Linked DNA regions of Homo sapiens. The protein of the gene in region 3 purifies or fractionates together with the protein of the main gene of each other region. This does not show direct contact. Each region holds a gene or a part of one and is shown on either strand. Other genes may lie near its edges.

Region 1 (3,646 bases), on a different chromosome or scaffold from region 3:
ACAGTCAGCACCTAGGAGTGGGAGAGGAGGTTTTGGTGGGCTGAGGTGGGCAGGGAGAGAGGAGGGGTGAAGTGCGCTGGAACAGCAGAGTGGAGCCTGGGTCCTGGCTTCACGCCTGGGGACAGGCTCCCCCAGTGTGGTTGGGTAGAGTCAGCAGGGCCTCTGTGGGGTCCCAGGGACATATCTGGGAGGGGCTGGCACAGGCGCCCAGCCTGTGCACGTCTCCACCTCCCCTGCCAGCAGCCTGAGCCCTGACCTGAGATCCCACACAGCACCGTGGCACATCCACTGTCCACCCCGGGGCTTTGGCAAAGTCTGTTCTGTTGCTAAGAAGTAGAAAACGGGGAGATGGGGCCTCAAAGGGTCAGTGAGTGACCAGGGCAGATGTGACAGAGTCCTGGTCCACTACTCTTCAGCCACCTTGGCACAAGCTGCGCCCTGCCCTGACTGATGTGAGTTCCCACTGAATGTAGAAAGGTGTGACACTTGTCCCTACCCCTAGGGAATCCCAATCCCAGGACCCAACCTCCCCCCACCGTGGTTGTAATTTATCAGCAATCACCTCCAGTGGCCTGAGCAGGCAGAGCCTCTTGGTGGCTAAGGGGTGCTGTCATGGGAAACGGAGGTTTTCATGGTGAAGACATGCTCTTCCCACTGGGGCAGGCGGCCTGCAGAGGCAGGTGGTCTTGGTTCCAGGGGGCTGGCAGGAGCCCATGCAGCCAGGTGGCCACCTGGAGACACCACCACGCCATCCCCCGAGGAGCTCTGTAACCCGGCCTCCCTCACCCCCGCTCGGCACTCCGCTGTAGTCAGCGCTCCTGGTGGCTCTGACTCTGGCACAGGAAATAATAAGCCCCAGCCGACAGCTGTGGGAAGGGGGCTATGAGAGTGCCTCAGGGGATGTTGGGGGGTCAGGCTGCTGGAGCAACGAGCATAGGGCTCCTCCCATCCTGCACCGTGGAAGCCACCTTGCGCACACACGGCTTCACGCTGTGATGCCCTCCTTCCTGAGGATGTGAGCTCAGGGTGGTGGGATTGGGGCCAGGGCCAGAGAGCTCTCCACCTGCTGCCTCCTGCCTGCCTCATCCTTGCCCTGTCCCAGCGCCTGCACCTACCCGGCAGCTCCCAGGCACCCACAAGGCCCAGGCACTGGGACCATCCAAGCAGCAGGTGGCTTCTAACACAAGGATCAGGGCGAGGACCAGGGTAGCTGCCGGTGGTCCCTTGGCCATTTGGGGCTGAGGGAGAGGTGGCCTGGTAGCCTCTCAGGCCCAGCTGCACCTGCTGCCTGAACACGTGCCTCTCAGCTGCCCAGGAAGGGGGCAGGGCTCCCCAGCAGCTGCAGCTCCACCACGCAGCCGCCCTGGGCAAAGCATCAAGTCTAGCTCCTCCCAGCAGTCTCACCCCAGCCCACGCCATGGGCGACTATGCATCCTGGTGGTGTCTGCTTCCCACCCTCAGTTCCGTAGTGCTGAGGGGCCCGCGTTCTCTGTGCACAGTCCTGGGAGGCCCATGGCTTCTGCCCGGCAAGTCGGTCAGATGCTGGTTTGATTACTATGTCTAAGGGCACGGGTGAGCATTCAGGGTGCTTTGGTGGCTTCACCCACTTAGCACCTTGTTAAGACAGGGAGCCCCTTATGGACACTGTTGAGGTAGAGGATTCCTGTCTTGGGGATAAGCCCTTTGTTTCATCAAAATCTACTCCCTGGGTCTGACTTAGTTTGGGGGCATTTAATGCTTTGGTAAAGTTAATATCCTCTTACTCCCTGGCAAAACTGTTCATTACTCTTACCTCAAATGTACACTTGATTTGCTGAGGCTTTTTAAAAACAGGCCGGCCACGGTGGCTTACGCCTGTAATCCCAGCACTTTGGGAGGCTGAGGCGGGTGGATTACTCAAGGTCAGGAGTTCAAGACCAGCCTGGCCAACATGGTGAAACCCCGTCTCCACTAAAAATACGAAAATTAGCTGGGCGTAGTGGCACACGTCTGTAATCCTAGCTCTTCGGGAGGCTGAGGCATGAGAATTGCTGGAACCCAGGAGGTGGAGGCTGCAGTGAGCAGAGATCATACCACTGTACTCCAGCCTGGGTGAGAGAGCAAGACTCTGTCTCAAAACCAAATTCCTGGTCATGTCCTTTGAGAGGCACATCTGGGAGTCCTGCTCTGTGTGGTAGCTGAGCTCCTGGAACCTGACAGTGAGTCTGCCAGCATCCTCTCAACTCTGAGTGCCTATGATCCCAGTCTCAGTAACTGCTTCCTGCCCTCGTCTTTCCTCCTCTCTGGGTTCCTCATAAAAATGTCCAGGAGGAACCAACTCTTCTGGTCCTGGGTCACCTCCGAATGGCCACAGAGTCATGAGCTCCCTGGGCTGCGCAGCCTGATCCTGGACACTGCAGGGCTCTGGCTTGCCTGGTAGACGCCCCCTGCCATTGCACCGAGGGCCAGCCCTCCAGCAGCAGCAGCGAGAGCCTCAGGAGAGCACTGCTCCTGGTCACTAGAGGACACATGATCCACAAAGACGAGGCCGGTGTGGACCTGCAGCGTTGCATCGTCCACTGCTGCTCTCTCTGAGGGCCACTCCTCTGAGTCTCCCACGCGGTCCCTTCTAGTCACAGTGGAGGTCCTCAGGGCATTTTCCTGAAGCAGCTGGTTGGAACTTTGGCGGTTCCAATGGCAGAGCCAGAGGATTTCTGCTGCTTTCATGTTGCCAAGGAGCCCTTGAAGGAGAAGGTGCCCTGGGGCAGGGGTGAGTTTAGATTTCAGTTCTGCCACCTGCCAGTGGCACTGTGAGGGCTGGAAAGGGTGCCAGACAGAGAATGTGGACACCTGTGTTCTCTTCTAGACCTTCTCTGCCTCATCGTGACTTTGGATGAGTCATAGGTCATCTCTCTCTGTCCTCAGTTTCCCTCCTTTTTAAAAGTGAGGTGTTGGCCAGATGACTTCAAGGCACCTTCCCCACCATCCCCTAGTCCGTTGTGTGATAAAGCTCACAGGAGGTGGGGGTCAGGGCACCCTTCATTCCTGGGCCACCCTGTGCCACCCAGCTCCCTGGACCTGGCCCACAACCCCACCTCCTCTCATCTGCCCTCACCCCATGACATTGTCCACGTTCGCACAAGCTCCAGGGGACAGGGCCTCATCTGTCTTGTTCACAGTGAACTCCCCAAGACCTAGAGCAGGGTCTGGCGCTTGGTAGGTGCTCAGGGCACATTTTTGGACAAGTGAGTGCTGGCCAGGACGCCCCTCCAAGAGCGGACCCATCTCCAGCCAGGCCACCCCTCCAAGAGCAGACCCATCTCCAGCCAGGCCACCCCTTCAAGAACGGGCCCATCTCCAGCCAGCTTGTCCCACAGGTTCGGCAGTGTCTTCCCGAGCCTCAACATGGCTGTGAAGAGGCGGGAACAGGCCTTGCAGGACTACAGGAGGCTGCAGGCCAAGGTGGAGAAGTATGAGGAAAAGGAGAAGACGGGGCCAGTGCTGGCCAAGCTCCACCAGGTACCAGGGGAGACAGGTGGGCAGGGGCTAGACAGGTGGGCCATCGTGGTCACCTGTGGTAAGTCCCTCCCCTCACCTGGGGGCACCAAGACACCAGACGTCCCCACCCCACCCATCCCGTATCCGGCACCCAGCAGTGAGAGAGTTT
Region 2 (3,746 bases), on a different chromosome or scaffold from region 3:
GCCTGGGTGGTAAAGCGAGACTCTCGTCTCAAAAAAAGAAAAGAAAGACAGTGCCCTGGGAACAAGGAGAAACTTGAAATGAGGCGGAGCTAGTACAAAGGCCACATCCTCCTGCAAATCCTCCAAGACTTTTGGAGCCAGATTTCCTCTCTATCACTTGTAGTCACAGGGTGACCTTGAGCAAGCTAGTTAACCCAGCTGGGCCTCAGGTCTATCATCTGCAAAACAAGGCTGAGTTGTTCTGCCAGCCCCGAGTTATTGCAAATGATTTACACAGAAGCTCTTTGTGAGCTGGTTACACAGATAATCTTATATTCTCCTTCAAAGCAGGTCGTTCCCAAATGATTTGCCTAAATTTGGTATTTCCTAAGCAGATTTTCCCCCTCCAATGGCTAATGGAAAGCAATGTCTTTGTCATCGGAGATATGGTCAAAAATTGCAATTCAGATACATGACAATTCCTTGCTTTCATACAGCACTTTATGGTCAATACAACGCTTCCAAATTCTTATTTCATCTTCGTGACATCACTAAAATATGGCTAGAGTCATAGCCAGTCCTGGAAGAAATCCCCAAAGTCCCCATTCTTAATCTCTCAGTGCCTGGGTTTCCATGTCACCCATGCATTGTAGAAGACAATATGGTAGATATACCAGAGGAGAAGTTTGAGTCGGGCTGACCCGGATTCTAATACCAGCAACAGCCACTTGCTATGTGACCTGGAATAAGACAATTTCTCTGAGCCTCAGTTTCCTCTTCAGTAAAGTGGGAACAATTTCTATGTCTCAAAGAGTTCTTGTGAGGACAGATGATCATGTATCAGCAGTGTTTGGGGCACAGCAAAGGCAGCATAACAGCTAAACATCCATTACCTTACTTAACTCATCCCATTTTACAGATGAGAAAACTAGGGCTGAGGCCGGGCCAGTGGCTCATGCCTGTTATGCCAGTACTTTGGGAGGCCGAGGTGGGTGGATCACCTGAGATCAGAAGTTCGAGACCAGCCTGGCAAACATGGTGAAACCCCATCTTTACTAAAATTACAATAATTAGCCGGGCTTGGTAGTGGGCGCCTGTAACCCCAGCTACTCGGGAGGCTGAGGCAGGAGAATCGCTTGAACCCGGGGGGCGGAGGTTGCAGTGAACCAAGATGGCGCCACTGCACTCCAGCCTGGGCAACAGAGCGAGACTCCGTCTCCAAAAAGATAATAATAATAAATAAATAAAAATAAAAAAATTTAAAAAGAAAACTAAGGTTGAAAGGGTCTATCATTTGCCCTAAGGTCTAACTGTGGTAAAGGAGTCCAAGTCCGTGCATTTAAACAAGCTGGTACGACTTGGCTGCAGGCTCTGGCCTCCCCTCTCCATGATAATAAAAGTGTTCCCCAGTACCTCATTTTATTATTCACCAATAAGCGTTCCGAGTCATGGGAAGTTTCCATTCAGAAATTACCCAGTGAGAGAAGACTGGGGTGACTGGCTCAGAGCAGGAAGACTTTCTAAAAAAACCATCATCACCATCGTTACTGAAAGGAGACTCAAGGGTCAGTGTGGCCCTCAGCGCAGACGTCGGGGGACCCCGGCTGAGGGTCGGGGGCGACCAAAGCGCGGCCACTGGTCCTCTGAGGCCCCGCCCCTCGCCCGGGCTGCCCCGCCCCGGGCCCCCGCGCCGCTCGCGCCGCTCACCGTGCACCTCCTTGCCCGTGGGCCCGAGCCGCCGGTGGGGCCTGGCAGCGCGCCTCAGCCGGCCAGCGGGTATCTTGCAGCGCAGCTCGTCGCGCGGCTCCGCATCCTGCTGCCACAGGACGTGCAAGTAGCGCAGCGGCGACTGGGCCCCGCCGGACGCCCGGCCCGAGAGGCCCGCGCCGCCGCCGCCCAGCGCAGACCCGAAGTCAGCGAAGGAGAAGAGGCCCTCAGCGTCAGTCAGCGGCTCCGGCGCCACCGCGCACTCGCCCTCCGAGCTCGAGTGGCCTGAGCGCGGCTCGTCGTCCGCGTCCCCGGCGGCGGCTGCCATGGCAACGGCTCCGCGCGGGCCTGGCCGCCTGAGCCTCGTTCCCGACCGACCAACGGACCTACTTCCCTCCGCCCTGAGTCGTGCTGTCAGCGAGCTGGCGGGCGGGCAGGGCCCGCAACCACGGCAACCGAGCGGGGGCGGGCTCAGGCCGAGACAGAGCGGCGAACCAATGACTACCCTTCCAGCTTAAACCGGTCCCAAAACCAATCGGAAAGGGAGGGCACAGTACAAGCAGGATAATTGGACAGGGTTTCCGGCAACGTGACTGACAGACATTGTAACCAATTACAAACTTGAAGTGACCTTGGCTTTCGCTGTACGTCGCTACCGGAGCCAGTAAAACAGCATTTCAGACGCTTTTTTTTTGCGACGGAGTCTCGCTCTGCCGCCAGGCTCGCGATCTCGGCTCACTGCAACCTCCGCCTCCTTGAAGCAATTCTCCTGCCTCAGCCTCCCGAGTAGCTGGGACTACAGGCGCGCGCCACCACGCCCAGCTAATTTTTGTATTTTTAGTAGAGACGGGGTTTCACCATGTTGGCCAGGATGGTCTCGATCTCTTGATCTCGAGATGTGCCGGCCTCGGCCTCCCAAAGTGCTGGGATTACAGGCGTGAGCCACCGCGCCCGGCCTTTTTTTTTCTTTTTCCTCTCCATTTCCCAGTCTAATGAGAAAACAAGCAGATACCTTAGCAAATCAGATTAAGATGATTTGCAGGCACTCACAAAGGAAAATGAAGAAGCCACGCCATCCATGTAGATATAGATGTTGTAAATCAATGAACGCAAAAAAAAAAAAAAAAAAGAACTTCCCACAAATGCATAATGTACGTGGGAAAGGGAAAATGTGTTGAAATTTGGAGATACCACTACAAACTGTGAGTAATAGTGTCTAAATGCAATGGATTTCCTTTAGTCAGAGTTCTCTAGGTAACCCCGACGTAGATGACTGATCTACAAAGATTTGTAATACAAAGTGATTACATTAGAGCAATAGTTTAGTTCGACAGCCAGTCACTGAGCCAGGTAACTGCTAGGTCCTGGACACAGGATCAGACTTGGTGCCCCTGAGATGCTCACAATCCAATGGGAGAAGACCAGGAAACAAATAAGTGTTCCTCAAGCAACATTTCATGGGTGCACGTTTTCATAAAACTTCTCACAATCCCGTACCCCACAAGCACTTCTATAAAGTAGACAAGAAGGACCATCCCTATTTTATAGGTGAGGAGTTGAAAAGCAGAGGGAAGAGACTCATTCACAGTTGCCCAGCTCTCACCGGACCAGGTCTTGTGTCCTGGCAAAAGTTCTTTCCATATATAAACCCTCCCACTCAACCCAGTTAAAATGTAATCTTTCCGCACGGTGGGTCACGCCTGTAATCCCAGCACTTTGGGAGGCCAAAATGGGCAGATGACAAGGTCGGGAGTTCAAGACAAGCCTGGCCAACATGATGAAACCTCGTTTCTACTAAAAATACAAAAATTAGCTGGGTGTGGTGGCGCACGCCTGTAATCCCAGCTATTCAGGACACTGAGGCAGGAGAGTAGCTTGAACCTGGGAGGCAGAGGTTGCGGTGAGCTGAGATCGCACCATGGCACTCCAGCCTGGGTGACAGAGCGAGACTCCATCTCAGAAAGAAACAAAAACAAAAAAAAGGCCTGGCGCTGTGGCTCACGCCTGTAATCCCAGCATTTTGGGAGGCTGAGGCAGGCAGATCACGAGGTCAGGAGATT
Region 3 (3,646 bases):
GTGCCACTGCACTCCAGCCTGGGTGACAGAGTGAGACCCTGTCTCTAAAACAAACAAACAAACAAACAAACAAACAAATGTGTTGAATATCAACTCTGTGTCTGTGGCAAATGTGCTTCTAGGTGCAGGGATATTGTTGTGCACAGGCCCGGTCTCTGTCCTCATGGAGCTTGATATTTACCTTCTTGTCAGTTCATTCATTTTCTCTGTTTGCATCTCGTTTACCCATCATGCATGGTGTCATGCTGGGTTCTGAGAACACATAGATGACCAGGCCCCAGGCCTTGCCCTTGAGGAGCCGGTAGGCCCTTGGGAGACACAGACCCAACCCAGATAACAAGAGCTCAGAGTGGGGGCCTGTCTTGTGCTCCTTGCAAGTTAACCTCCCCACCTTTGCAGCTTTGGAAGCTACTCTCACCACTGTGTATTCTCTTTATGAGCGTCTTGTCTGTGTGCAGGAAGATCCCTGTCCCCATTTTGCAGATGAAGGAGCTAGTGTCCACAGAAGAGTGGTTGCACAGCCTGTGGCCCGGCTGGGACTGTCCCTTCCTCCTGCCACCTCCCCAAGGACACGTCCATGTTGGCCACTTCCCAAGCCTAGCCATGTTTTCAGTTCTCATGACCCCCTCTGTGGGGGAGGGACAGGATGGGCCTCTGCCTGTTACTGCTGGGGCTGTCCATGAACTGCCGGGGAAATGACTCATCCTGGGTCACACAGGGGCACTCTGGCTGGGCCAGGGGTGCAGAATCAGGGGTCCAGGGCACTGTCCACATGGCCTATCCAACTCCTGCTTCCCAAGCCTGGCTTCTCTTCTTGCCTGAGGAGAGAGCCAGTGGCTGCCCCAGCAGGTGCCTGAGTCCTGGGCACAGCTGGGAGGGCAGATGTCAGGAGAGAGGTGTGATCCTCCCTGGGGCTGCTTGGTAACTCGTCTGCAGGGCGTGGAGCTGGCTCCCTGGCCCTTGGGCCCTGAGGTTAGACCTGGCTTGGTGGGGAGTTTGACTCTGGGTGGGGCCAGGGGGCAGACCTCTGCACTGAGCCTGGGGAACAGGAAACATGTCACCCACCACCACCAGGGAGGGCCTGGGGTAAGCTGGCCTTGCTTTCCTTTACCAAGAGGTTGACTTCTATAACTTCTCCAGCTCCCAGCCTCCTTTCTCCCCTTGCTATATCCTCTTCCTCTTCCTTTCTTTCTGTTTTTTTTTTTTTTTCTCTCATCTCTACCTTTCTTCCTCCTCCTCTGAACTCCAGGAAACACAAACCTGAGTGCTAGTCTTGGCTCTGCCCCTAGATTGCTGTGCGTCCCCGGGGAGTGCCTTTGCCCCTCTGGGCCTTAGTTTCCTGATCTGTAAAACAAGGGAATGGGGTCCCAGTGAGCCATCAGGCCTTCAAGGGAGTGGGTGGGAAGGGACTCCTGGGGAGGGTATGGCTCAGAAACAGAATGACACCTTAGCTCTGGCTCTGAGCACTGGGGCAGGAGTAGGGCAGGGGAGGTGGCCAGGCCTGCTGGGGGCCCACTGGGGCAGGTGTCTCCCTGAGCACAAGTGGGAAGGCTGGTTCAACCAGCTCCTTAGATGGCTTGTTCCTGTGCAGGCAGCAGGAGGGGGAATGCAATGATTAAACAGATGCTCCCATGCAGTGGCTGGGGACCCCCCACCCAGAGCAGAGCTGAGGACATTAGGGCAGCCCCACACCTAGGAAGGACACCAGGGCCTCCCAGGCTGGGGGGAAGCCAGACCAGCCTTTCTGACCCTGGGCAGAGAGACAGAGCTGAGATAGGCCATTTCTGAGTTTCTACTTGAGGTGTTTCTAAGAGTCAGAGGCCACTGTCCTCTGTGCTGGTGCATTTGACCTGAAACAGAGGCCAGCCCACTGCCTTCCCTCCCCGGGAGGACCCCTCCCAATGGGCCAAGCCCTCTCTGGCTTACTCTAAGTTCTGGGCTCTGCACTGCTCCTCCCAGGCCTGTGGTGTGGGGCAAGTTAGGGAGGGGGTACTGAGACAGAACTGGACAGGCTTTGGGGACCACAGCCCAATGGGAGTGATAAGGAGGGGGTCCTAATGCTGGCCTTAGGGGTGGAGCCCTTCTCAAAGAAAAGAGAAGAACAGTTGGGTCCTGGGCCCCCAGGATTCTGTCCAGCCTGTCTGGACATCTGAATGGGTGGTGAGTGTGTGGGAGGAAGGACAGTGGAGGCCTAGGTGGGAGTCAGGAGACCAGGATTTGGACAAACTTTGCATCTGACATGACTTTGGGAGAGATTTCTCCCCTCAGTCTCTAGGTGAGTAAAATGGGACCCGAGGGTCTTCATTTCCTTAGGAGGGCTCCATGTCATGTGAAACTTACATTAAACAAATTTGTATGCTTTTCAGAAAAATAATAAAATGAAATAAAATGGGACATAAACCCTGGCTGGAGCTGAGAGGAGCCTGGTCCTCCCACGGGCCTAGTCCCTGTAGCCCAATCCAGGGGTCTCCTAAGAGAAGGGTAACCATATAATTAACCAGGGCAGTTTGGGGCATAAAAGGGGGCCCTAGCAATAGTGATCCCGGGACAACAGGGGAAAGTAACTGTCCAGGGCAAGCTGGGACGTATGGACCCCCAACTTGACAGCCAGCAAGAGCGGGGCTGGTCCTAAGGCTCACGACAGGTCAGGAGGGCGATGTGGTCACTTCCGTTTTACAGACGAGGTGCAGCGATGCAGATGAGCCTCAGAGCAGGAGCTGGAGTCCAGTGTGTCTGGCTCCGCAGCCCAGGCTGTTTCCACTGTGCCCTCCCAGATGGGGGAGGGGATCCCCAGGGATGGAGAGCTGAGCCAGAAGGCGAAAGAGGAGGGAGGAAGGCTTGGGTGCTCCTTCACTGGTCCTGTGGGCTAGAGAGAGGCCCAGGACCACAGAGCTTCCATGGAGGGGCCATAGGGACAGCGTGGCCAAGGCAAAGTGGCGACTGTAGGGACAAGTTCTTGCCTGGGGGATGGGTGGGTTCAGCCTCTGGGTTCTGAGCCATCATCTAGCCTTCCCTCTACCGCTCATCCTGTAATCTCAGCACTTTGGGAGGCCGAAGTGGGCGGATCACAGGAGTTCGACACCAGCCTGGCTAACATAGTGAAACCCTGTCTCTACTAAAAATACAAAAAAATAGCCAGGCATGGTGGCAGGTGCCTGTAATCCCAGCTACTTGGAAGGCTGAGGCAGAAGAATTGCTTGAACCCAGCAGGCGGAGGTTGCAGTGAGCCGAGATCAAGCCACTGCACTCCAGCTTGGGCAGCAGAACAAGACTCCATCTCAAATTAAAAAAAAAAAAAAAAAAGAAAAGAAAAGCAGTTTTCAAGCCATAACATGTAGCATCTGGAGCTTCTATTGTATCTCAGGTGCGCTCCTTTGAACTGTGTACATATTAGTTCAGTTAAGCCTCAACTATACTATAGGGCAGGTACTATTATTATCCCATTTTACAGATGTGGAAACTCCTTAAAGCACTATACCGTGTGAGAGGTTGTCAACAGCATCACATCTAGTGCAACCTGTCCCACTGGGCAGTGGGGAGACCTGGAGCCCAGGCAAGAGCAGTGGCTTGCTGGAGAGGATACAGCTAGGACTAGGACTCAGACCTCCTGCTCCCTCCTGCCCCCAACCTGGGGTGGATGTTAACT

What was found.
Region 1: the proteins of SNX33 (region 3) and BIN3 purify together in Homo sapiens (affinity purification with mass spectrometry; one large-scale study listed by BioGRID and IntAct). This does not show direct contact.
Region 2: the proteins of SNX33 (region 3) and ANKRD54 purify together in Homo sapiens (affinity purification with mass spectrometry; 2 studies listed by BioGRID and IntAct, with this or other methods). This does not show direct contact.

The regions. Positions count from the first base shown.
Region 1 is NC_000008.11:22,624,074-22,627,719, reverse strand, and holds part of BIN3 (bridging integrator 3), read left to right. Parts: intron 1-2,307; coding exon of another isoform or gene 2,308-2,419; exon of another isoform or gene 2,420-3,350; intron 3,351-3,356; coding exon 3,357-3,498; intron 3,499-3,646. UniProt on the Homo sapiens protein: Involved in cytokinesis and septation where it has a role in the localization of F-actin.
Region 2 is NC_000022.11:37,842,225-37,845,970, forward strand, and holds the start of ANKRD54 (ankyrin repeat domain-containing protein 54), read right to left. Parts: upstream 2,111-3,746; 5' UTR 2,015-2,110; coding exon 1,687-2,014; intron 1,625-1,686; exon of another isoform or gene 1,393-1,624; intron 1-1,392. UniProt on the Homo sapiens protein: Plays an important role in regulating intracellular signaling events associated with erythroid terminal differentiation.
Region 3 is NC_000015.10:75,650,813-75,654,458, forward strand, and holds part of SNX33 (sorting nexin-33), read left to right. Parts: intron 1-3,646. UniProt on the Homo sapiens protein: Plays a role in the reorganization of the cytoskeleton, endocytosis and cellular vesicle trafficking via its interactions with membranes, WASL, DNM1 and DNM2. Acts both during interphase and at the end of mitotic cell divisions.